2 separate regions of the Homo sapiens genome follow, and region 1 is linked to region 2. The links come from fine-mapping of genetic effects on gene expression. Tissue or cell type: whole blood. Region 2 holds a variant in brackets; the other region holds the start of a gene. All regions are shown on one strand. Distances are between the middles of the regions. Region 1 holds the start of GTF3C6 (general transcription factor IIIC subunit 6). Region 2 has its middle 31 kb from the start of GTF3C6.

Evidence for each region. PIP is the estimated chance that this variant, and not a neighbour inherited with it, causes the effect.
Region 1: GTF3C6 starts here. The variant in region 2 is the best candidate, but not a certain one, in a credible set for the expression of GTF3C6 in whole blood (INTERVAL, PIP 0.76).

Annotation. Positions count from the first base shown.
Region 1 is chr6:110,956,357-110,961,697 of GRCh38, reverse strand. It overlaps GTF3C6 (general transcription factor IIIC subunit 6), which reads right to left and starts at 2,992. Exons shown (of 6, transcript NM_138408.4): 1 at 2,872-2,992; 2 at 2,446-2,526; 3 at 1,221-1,284; 4 at 1,082-1,126. The coding sequence starts at 2,928. RefSeq lists an enhancer at 2,670-3,119.
Region 2 is chr6:110,924,979-110,930,359 of GRCh38, reverse strand. No RefSeq gene overlaps it. Among named protein-coding and RNA genes, the nearest start is that of GTF3C6, 31 kb to the left of the region's middle. The variant G/T (reference allele first, on the strand shown) is at 2,576.

The DNA of each region.
Region 1 (5,341 bases), 31 kb before region 2:
GAAGCCAAAGTATGGAGTAGGGACATTCTCAATCATGAAAGCCTGAGGAAAAAAATTGCTGCCAACCTGCTGCCTGGAGTTGAAACTTTCAGAAAACTGTATGCCTAGGCAGGACGGAGGATAAGGCCCTTGAGCCAAGGATATGAAGCACAGACACTTCCATACATTGCTACTGTGAGTATAAATTGATACCATACTTTAGAAAGTAGGCTGCTCTGCCTATGAAGTAGCCCTTCTTTTATTCCTTGGCCAGGAGTGGTGGCTCACACCTGTAATCCCAGCACTTTGAGAGGCCGAGGCAGGCAGATCACTTGAGGTCAGGAGTTTGAGATCAGCCTGGCCAACATGGCGAAACCCTGTCTCTACCAAAAATAGAAAAATTACCTAGGCGTGGTGGCAGGCGCCTGTAATCCCAGCTACTCGGGAGGCTGAGGCAGGAGAACTGCTTGAACCTGGGAGGTGGAGGTTGCAGTGAGCCAAGATTGCACCACTGCACTCCAGCCTGGGTGACAGAGTGAGACTCTGTCTCAAAAAAAAAAAGAATTCAGGAGAGTGATCATCTCTGAAGACAGAGGGAAAGAAGTAAGTTTGGAAAGGGGGATAGAAGGACTTCAAATGTATCTGGAATGGGTTCTTTTGTTTGTTTTTGAGACACAGTTTATCTAGCTCTGTTGCCCAGGCTGAAGTGCACTGGTGCGATCTCGGCTCACTGCAACCTCCACCTCCCAGGTTCAAGCAATTCTCGTGCCTCAGTCTCCCGAGTAGCTGGGAGGCACATGCCACCATACCCAGCTAATTTTTGTATTTTTAGTATAAATGAGGTTTTGCCATGTTGGCCAGGCTGGTCTCGAACTCCTGGCCTCAAGTAACCTGCCTGCCTTGGCCTCCCAAAGTGCTGGGATTACAGGATTGAGCCACCTGGCCCAGCCTGGCATTTTTTTTTTTTAACTATAATCTGAGTCACGTTTGGGAAAATGATAGGATATGATACAGCTAGACAGTGGATACATGAGATATTTATTATGCTTAAGTATGATTGAAATAGTTCGTATTAAAAAGGGCTGGGCTAGCAATCACTTACCATGTTCAACATTTTCTTCAAATATAACACAGGTCCCTAGAGTGTCTGCAGAAAAATACAAAGGCAAATTGTTGAGAAGAGCTACCATCTCTGAAAAGCCCATATCAGAAAGAGTTCCATCTATCTGACATCCTCCTACCTTCATACTCCCCAGCAAAGACACAGCTGTCCACTTGCAGAATGGGCCTCTCAGTGTCAATGCCCTACAACAGAATAAAGGATCATAAAAAAAAAACATAATTAGAAAAAGGCTTCAACATTGTAACCTTGCTACCAAGGAAACTAATCTCCAAAACTGGGGAACCTCTAGAGCATCTTGTCCTACCAAGTACAGGATAAACTACAACTGCTCTGATCACAGCAGTTACAACCTGAAGACTACTTAATTCATACTCAAGTAACAAGGTTTATTTCAATCAACATCCTGTTCAAGAGTAAGCTAAAAACAGAGGAAGTTTTGTCAACAGTAGTGCAAAGAGTCTATCTGTCATCTATTTATTTTTTGAGACAGTGTCTAGCTCTGTCACCCAGGCTGGAATGCAGTGGCATGATCATGTTCAGGCAATCCTCCCACCTCAGCCTCCTGAGCAGCAGGGACCACAGGCGCATGCCACCATCCCCAGCTAATTTATTATTATTATTATTTTTTTTTTTTATTGAGATGGAGTTTTGCCCTTTGTTGCCCAGGCTGGAGTACAGTGGCGCGATCTCGGCTCACTGCAACCTCTGCCTCCAGGGATCACGCGATTCTCCTGTCTCGGCCTCCCGAGTAGCTGGGATTACAGGCGCCCACCACCATGCCTGGCTAATTTTTGTATTTCAGTAGAGACGGGGTTACACCATGTTGGCCAGGCTGGTCTCGAACTCCTGGGCTCGTGATCTACCCGCCTCGGCCTCCCAGTATTGGGATTACAGGCGTGAGCCACCGCGCCTGGCCATTTTTTTTTATTATTATTTTAGAGAAGGGGTCTCGTTATGTTGCCTAGGATGGTCTCCAATTCCTGGGCTCAAGTGATCCTCCCACCTCTGCCTCCCAAAGTGCTGAGAATACAGGAATATATGTACGGTTCCATATCACAATGTTACTTCCTCCAAATCTGTAACTTTCTCTTCAGCCACACATTCAAACAGGCAAGCAAAGTTAGCCATTTTCTCCTATCTGCTCCCATAGTCCCCGCTGTACTTCTACATTATACTTAATTACATATTAATTAATTATACTTAGTATACTTCTTATCCTTAGAGTTCACTACTTTGTAAGGTGAAATAAATATATCAATACTTGCGGATAGGTATTTCACCATTGATTCTTGTTTTACATTTAAGACACTCTAGAACAATCCCCCCAAGTCTAGAAAACTCACCAAAACCTTGCATTTATTTTCACATTTTGAGAGGAAGTCTGAATCAATAATTCCTGATAATTCCACCAGAACCAACTGCTCCTGGTGAAAGAAAGAGGGGTTAACATGCTAGCACGCGAGCGGCCAAGAGGGAGCAATTAGCAAAAGAAGCCAAATTTCCCACATTTGTGAAAACCGGACCCTGTTTTCAGCAAGAGGAAACTACGCTACCTAAGGTAACTTCCCGGTACTTCCCATCCCAAGTACGGGGTGACGATTAGGGCTAAGGTCCCAAGCTGCCCGGCTCCTCGCGCCCAGGAGCAAGAAGCCGGTGAGGAGCAGTGGGGCCTCCCTCCGGCCCGCAGCTCCCCAACTCCCTTCCCCACACACAGCCAGCACAGGCATCACCGCCACTGCGGTGCAGGCTTTTGGCGTAGCGCTTACTACCTCCTCTTCCTCGTCTTCTCCGTCCTCTGGACTCCGCTCGTCCGCCGCCGCCGCCATGGTCCCGCGGCGCCTCGCCTTCTAGTCACTGGCCACGCCCGCCCGGAGCCGCCATCTTGAGTACGGGCTTCAGCTCCGAGGCGAAGCAGCTTATTGGGTTCCTGCCGCTCCGCTCCTCGCCGCGCAAATTGCTTCTGCCAGAACTCGAGATGTCGGCTTCCGGCGGGCGGGTGGCTACGGGCGCCGAGAGCGCCGGTACCCACGTGGAGACTCGCCACGGGCCTCCTCGTTTCTCGGTGCCTCAGAGCAGGGGCTGGGGGTGGGCTGCCGTAGGCAGCGGAGCCCGCTCGGTCACGCAAGAGTCGCCGGGCTCTCGGCCCCGCTGGCGGGGAGGACTGGCAAGGCAGAAGGGATAAAGGCGAAAACAAGGAAACCATGGTTTCAGGCGGATCATGGACAGAAAGGCCTTGTGTTTGACCCGAGCACATTTCTTGGAAAGAAATTCTTAATATTGTGTGAGCGCTCATCCTCAATTCAACGTACCCCAAGCCAAGTTAAAGGCACATTCAGTTTAATACTAATGAGCGCCTACACAGTAAAAAGCACTGCACCAGGAGCTATGAAAAATAGAAAGTGGGCTTAAGTTTCAGGCCTGCAGGAGCATAAGATCTGTGAGAGGTACATAAATGGATCCAAGCAAGTGCTGTAAGAGATACACATTGTTATAGGAACACAGAGACCTGGGCAAGAGAAGTTTGAACAGAATTTTCAGAAGTATCCCATAGATGTTTGTGATTGTGAAAGAAACGGTCTTCGTACTTGCGATAGCGTGATCTAGTGGTTAAGATCGTGAGTTTTGGATTTTTATTTATTTATTTATTTGGAGATGGAGTTTTGCTCTTGTTACCCAGGCTGGAGTGCAATGGTGCAATCTCGGCTCACTGCAGCCTCCACCTCCCGGGTTCAAGCGATTCTCCTGCCTCAGCCTCCCGAGTAGCTGGGATTATAGGCATGCGCCACCACGCCCGGCGAATTCTGTTATTTTTAGTAGAGACGGGGTTTCTCCATGTTGGTCAGGCTGGTCTCGAACTCCCGACCTCAGGCGATCCCCCTGCCTGGGCCTCCCAAAATGCTGGGATTACAGGTGTGAGCCACCGTCCCCAGCCTGAGCTTTGGATTTTAATACCAGTCAAGTTCTGCTGCATTATTAACAGCAAGGCTTTGGGCAGATTGGTGGTTGTGAGGATTAAATGAGACAATACATATAAAATAAATTTAGCCCAGTATTCAGCACATAGTAAGCATTTAAAGTGCATTTAATCTATTATTAGTAGTAATATATAAATTTTTTAGTATGATGCTCTTTCTCTCTTTCTTTTATTCATTGTTTGTTTCTTTCTTTCTCTCTTTCTTTCCTTTCTTTTTTGTGACAGGGTCTGGCTCTGTCGCCCAGCCTGGAGTGCAGTGGCGCCATCGTAGCTCCCTGTACCCTCAAACTCCTGGGCTCAAAGGGAGCCTCCTACCTCTGCTTCCTGAGTAACTGGGACTACAGGTGCACGCCACAGCGCCTGTCTTTACATAATGGTTGTATGAGTGTGCCATAACTTGATCCTCTATTTTTTAACACATAGGTTATTTACAATTTGTGGATATTGTAAATAACACTCTTTTGTGTATATTTTTGTCCAGTTGCCTAATTAAATGTATAGGATTTCATAGCTTAAAAAAGTAGAAGGAACACTGGACCTGTTAGAAGTACATTTCAATTCTAGCTCTGAAGCTTAATAATTGTGAAGTTTTCCAACCTCAGTTTTCTTATTTATTATATGAGGATGAAAATAATTATACTTAACACCGGGTGCGGTGTCTCAAGCCTGTAATCCCAGCACTTTAGGATGCTGAGGCGGGCGGATCACAAGGTCAGGAGATTGAGACCATTCTGGCTAACACGATGAAACCCTGTCCCTACTAAAAACACAAAAAAATTAGCTGGGCATGGTGGTGTGCACCTGTAGTCCCAGCTACTCCGGAGGCTGAGGCAGGAGAATGGCGTGAACCCGGGAGGCGGAGCTTGCAGTGAGCCAAGATTGTGCCACTGCACTCCAGCCTGGCCGACAGAGCAAGACTCCGTCTCAAAAAATAATAATAATACTTACTGTGTCTTTTTTGCTTGGAAAGCAAAAATTCAATCGTATATCTAAAAATACTTGGTAAACTGAAAAATTACATAAATTGTCAGATTTTGAGGGAGATGTGGGGAGAGTAAGGAGGAGTGGATAATCCAAGCTGAGGGAACAGCAGAAACAAAGGCTTGAGGAATGAAAATATGTGTGTTTTGAAAGGTTAGTGTGTTATAACTCAAGATGTCCCTTTAAAATAAACAAGCCTCATACTTCTAGCAAAAGTTATTGTTTGGTATTTATGAAGTAATTATTTTTATTTACTTTTAATGATTTACAAAAGAATACACAGT
Region 2 (5,381 bases):
CACTGCACTCCAGCCTGGCAACAGAGCAAGACTCTGTCTTAAAAAAAAGAAAAGAAAGAAAGACAGTTTTATACTACTAATGGGGATGTGGAGATGGGCAGCAGAAATTTCATAGAGTACTTAGTTATGTCAGCATTAACTTTCTGTCATAGATGTTACATCCTGGATTAGTCATGAAACAGGAAGTTTAAGAAATGTCTAAAATGACAAGTTGTAATATAAAAGTAACAAATGCCTCTCTCACTTTTTTTGTTTTTGTTTTTCTTTTTTTTTTTTTTTTGAGACAGAGTCTCACTCTGTTGCTCATGCTGGAGTGCAGTGGTGAGATCTCAGCTCACTGCAACCTCCACCTCCTGGGTTCAAGCGATTCTCCTTCTTCAGCCTCCCAAGTAGTTGGGATTACAGGCACTCGTCACCATGCCCAGCTAATTTTTGTAATTTTAGTGGAGGCAGTGTTTCACCATGTTGGCCAGGCTGGTCTCAAACTCCTGGCCTCAAGCAATCCTCCCAGCTCAGCCTTCCAAAGTGCCAAAATTACAGGCATGAGCCATCACGTCTGGCCTATAGGTACCTTTCTTATTAAAGAAATGAATGAAAGAAAAAAAGCCTTATGACCTTAAGCAAGTTCCTTAACAGACCTCAGCTGCCCATTTATAAAATGAGAAAATTGGATTGGATAATACTAAGGTCCTTTCCACACATCATAATGTTTTTTCAGAAACAAAAAGGTCTCATGTGACAGGAACTGACCAAAACAAGCTACAGACCAGGCGTGGTGGGTCACGCCTGTAATCCCAGCACTTTGGGAGACGAAGGTGCCTTTGCAGATAGTGGATACTCAATCAAACCCCATCTCTACTAAATACAAAAAATTAGCTGGGCTTGGTGGCGCATGCCTGTAATCCCAGCTACTCAGGAGGTTGAGGCAGGAGAATTGCTTGAACGCAGGAGGCGGAGGTTGCAGTGAGCCGAGATTGCGCCATTGCACTCCAGCCTGGGCAACAGGAGTGAAACTCCGTCTCAAACAACAACTACAACAACAACAACAACTAGCTACAATGAAAATAATGATAAGGATGGGTAGAATAAAATATAGCATAATTCATTCAGTAATGCAAAGCACAGGCACTCAGTTATTCACCTGCTGTCTCCACAATTATCACATTTGTCAGAATTTGCCGTTAAAGGGATTTGTTGTGTTCTAGACTACACAACACTGTGGCAGTCAGGAAACCTTTATGCTACTCTTGGGGTTCCAGATCTCTGAGCTTCCTTCATTCTGCAAGTTACTAGTCAGCTATTTACATGTTGTATTCTTTACTATATTATAATCTCTAGGAGGGCAGGGATCACATCCTATGCATGTCTATACCCCATTCTACCTTGTCTAATACTTTGCAGATAGTGGGTACTCAATAAATGTCATTTGATGATCTCTTTGTCTAGTAAATAAATGTGAAACGTGGTTTTTAAATGGCATTTCACATTAAATAATATAACACTTATATAATGTCCATCACCTAAAATATTTGCTTTTCCTCATGCTCATTAAATATTTGATCTTTCTTCAGGGGTCAGATGAGGTTCATCCTTCTCTATGAAGTACTAATTGGTTGTTACAGCACTTAATTATGGCGTTTTCTTATTTATTGTACCATTCAGGTGGCTAAGTATTTTGGGTGGGGTCTCTATCACCACACTAGATTTTTATTTATTTACTTATTATTTATTTATCAGAGACAGTGTCTCCCTATGTTGCCCAGGCTGGACTAGAACTCCTGGGCTCAAGCGATCCTCCCACCTCAGCACGTTAGATTTTTAGTTCAGCACAGGAAGAAGCATGTAATTTCTCCTTTATCCTGTAAGCATGGTGCCTTCATAACAAAGTTGCTAAATAAATATTTGATGATGATCCTGATGATCAATAATAAGTGATTTACTGTTAAAGGTTTACTAGTTGCTTATATCAACCCCCCAAAATACTTCAGATACAAATTTTCTAAAAGGAACGCACTTTGGGAGTGACAGCTTTGCTCTCACCTAGGTACAGGCTCCCGCAGCCTGTCTCAGACCATACCCAGGCGCAGCCTTTTCTGTATTTTATTGTCTTCATTTTCCTGGAAGCCAGGGGATTTGGAGGATGATCAAATGGAAAGAAGGAATGAAGGGAAGGAGGGAGGGAAGGAGGAAATGAAAATATATTTGTGTACATTGTGAATATAATGTACAAGATGTAACAAAAGAATAGACAGGCAGATTTTGAAGACATTATAATCTACTGGAATAATCTGGATACACACAATTGAAAATATATCAAAGTATATAAATAGTGAAACCCCATCTCTACTACAAATACAAAAATTAGCTGGGCATGGTGGTGGGCACCTGTAGTCCTAGCTACTCAGGAGGCTGAGGCAGGAGAATAGCTTGGAGGCAGGAGAATAACTTGAAGTCGGGAGGCAGAGGTTGTGGTGAGCTGAGATCATGCCATTGCACTCTAGCCTGGGCAACAATAGCGAAACGCCATCTCAAAAAAAAAAAAAAAAGAAAGAAAGAAAGAAAAAAGAAAAAAACT[G/T]GTTGAGTAAGTAGGAGGAGGGGCTAAATTGATAAGGAGATTTAGGGCTCAGTGTAAATAATTTACAGTTTCTATGAGGAGCTGCTAAAAGCAATTCAAGGTTTATGAAAAAGGGCTTCATATTCAAACAGTGTTTGAGGAAGATTATTCTTGCCATAGTAATGACATTTATTGAACATTTCTTATATGTCTTATATGTAAGTGCTTTACATATTAGCCCATTTAATCTTACAACTACCCCATGAGGAAGACACTGTCATCTCTGTTGTGCAGGCAAGGAAACTGAGGCACAGATCCTGGGTAACTTGCTTCCTCAAGGCCCCATTGCTTCTAAATAGCAGACCTGGAATATGAACTCAGGCTGTCTGAGTCTAAACCTGGTGTCTCTTCTAACCATCTCGTGACATGGCTTCTCTTTCCATAGAGCTATGTATCTATGTGGGAGACAGATAGGAGATTCATCAGGAGGTAGCAGTGGTCTAAGGCATGTAGTGATTAGACTGAGTGGGACTGTGATCACAGAAAAAGCAAGGAAGGGATGAAGCTGAGAAAATTCACATGAGAGAATTAGACTTGCTAGGTATATTTGGAAATGGAGGTAAGGGATAGGGAGATAAGGATATTATTTCATTCCAAAAAGATTTATTATTTTTTTTTATGACAGGGTCTTGCTCTGTCACCTAGGCTGGAGTTCAGTGGCGTGATCACAGCTCACTGCAGCCTCGAACTCCTGGACTCAAGCAATCCTCCTTCCTCAGCCTCCCAAGTAGCTGGGAAGACAGGTGCCCACCACATCTGGCTATTATTTTTATTTTTTGCAGAGATGGGATCTATGTTGCCCAGGCTGGCCTCCAACTCCTGGACTCGAGCAATCCGCCCACCTCAGCCTCCCAAACTGCTGGAATTACAGGCGAGAGCCACTGCTCCCAGCCCCCCAAAAGATTAATGAATATTTACTATGTGCCAGGAACTGTGTTAGGTACTGTATTCGGTTAAGAAACAGTGAACCAGATAGACAGAGTCCCTGCATTTATGGAGCAAGATTGTGTTATTAGTGGAAAACAGGCTCTATATGCATAGAAAACACAACAAACTGGAAACACTGGTTGTTTAGGAGAACTAGATGGAAGCAGAAACGTAGAAGAGAAACCTGTTGAACTTTACAGTTCTATTAGAATTTGTCTAAAGGTTTTCCCCTCCTAGGCACGGAGGGAACAAAGGAAACATTGAATTTTAACACATGAATATGTTAACTATTTTAAAAATAGGGCTTTTTAAATATAATCAGATCTCATGATGTAAAAAATGTGTAGTTTTTTGTTTGTTTTTTGAGACAGTCTCACTCTGTTACCCAGGCTGGAGTGCAATGGCGTGATCTTGGCTCACTGCAACCTCTGCCTCCCAGGTTCAAGGGATTCTCATGCCTCAGCCTCCCGAGTAGCTGGGATTACAGGCATGCACCACCACACTCAGCTAATTTTGATATTTTTAGTAGAAACGGGATTTCTTCATGTTGGCCAGGCTGGTCTTTAACTCCTGGGCTCAGGTGATTTGCCCCCACCAGCCTCCCAAAGTGCTGGGATTACAAGCATGAGCCACCATGCCTGGCCTATAGTTTTTTGTTTTTTAAAAAAACTGAGATACTGCCAGGTGAGGTGGCTCACGCCTGTAATCCCAGAACTTTGGGAGGCCGAGGCAGGTGGATCATGAGGTCAGGAGTTTGAGACCAGCCTGACCAACATGGAGAAACCTCATCTCTACTAAAAATACAAAAATTAGCTGGGCGTGGTGGTGTGTGCCTATAATCCCAGCTACTCTGGAGGCTGAGGCAGGAGAATCGCTGGAACCCAGGAGGCAGAGGTTACAGTGAGCTGATACTGCGCTATTGCACTCCAGCCTGGGCAACAAGAGTGAAACTCCGTCTCAAAAAAAAAAAAACCAACCGAGATACTAAGACTACGTGCTGTGTACACACACACACACACACACACACACACGCCTGTATACGCGCAGACTTTCTGACAATTCATACAAGAAACTGGCAAAACTGGACCCCTTGGGGAAGGGAATTGGGTGGAAATAGAGGTGAGAGACTTTACCCTTTTGTACCATTTGTGTTTTTATGAATTCAATTATTGAATATACTTTGTACAAGTATTTACTTAATAAAAGCAAATGAGTTTTAAAAATAGCAATCAGAAACCTAGGAATTAATAGAGGTTTTATGGAGAAAGAATCCCACAAGTTTGAAATATTTTACATACCAGCGTGCTTTTCTTTAAGTTTTAACTTTTACCAAAATTAGCAAAGAAAAAGTATATGTGTGTGCATGCGCAGTAGAAGGAAACCAATTAAAACTTTGGTGTTTGTGGAAATAAGAGAATTAAAATATTTTGGCATTTGGTGAATGTGGGAAAAACTCCTCGGCTATCAAAATTCTCTAAATAAGTTTTCAAAAAATGCCTAAGGCAGTTTCACTTCTTACAATAGACACTCTATTGAAACAGGTTCAGGTGGTGGCCAACCTCCACCCATAGGTTGCAGGGTTTTTGTGATTTCTTGTAGAACTAACTAATCCTGACATGACAGTTTGTACTGTGTTTTAAATCGGAATTGATCCCCTCGGTTCCAAACAAAATTTGGATGATGAAACCTATTATTCTTTTGCAGAGTGAGGGCCAATTTGGTTGAACCACGATTAGAAAATTTAGTTGTATTTCTGGAGATATTTTAACTTTCAGGATTTTTTTTTTGAGACAGAGTCTCTGTTGCCTAGGCTGGAGTGCAGTGGCGCAGTCTCAGCTCA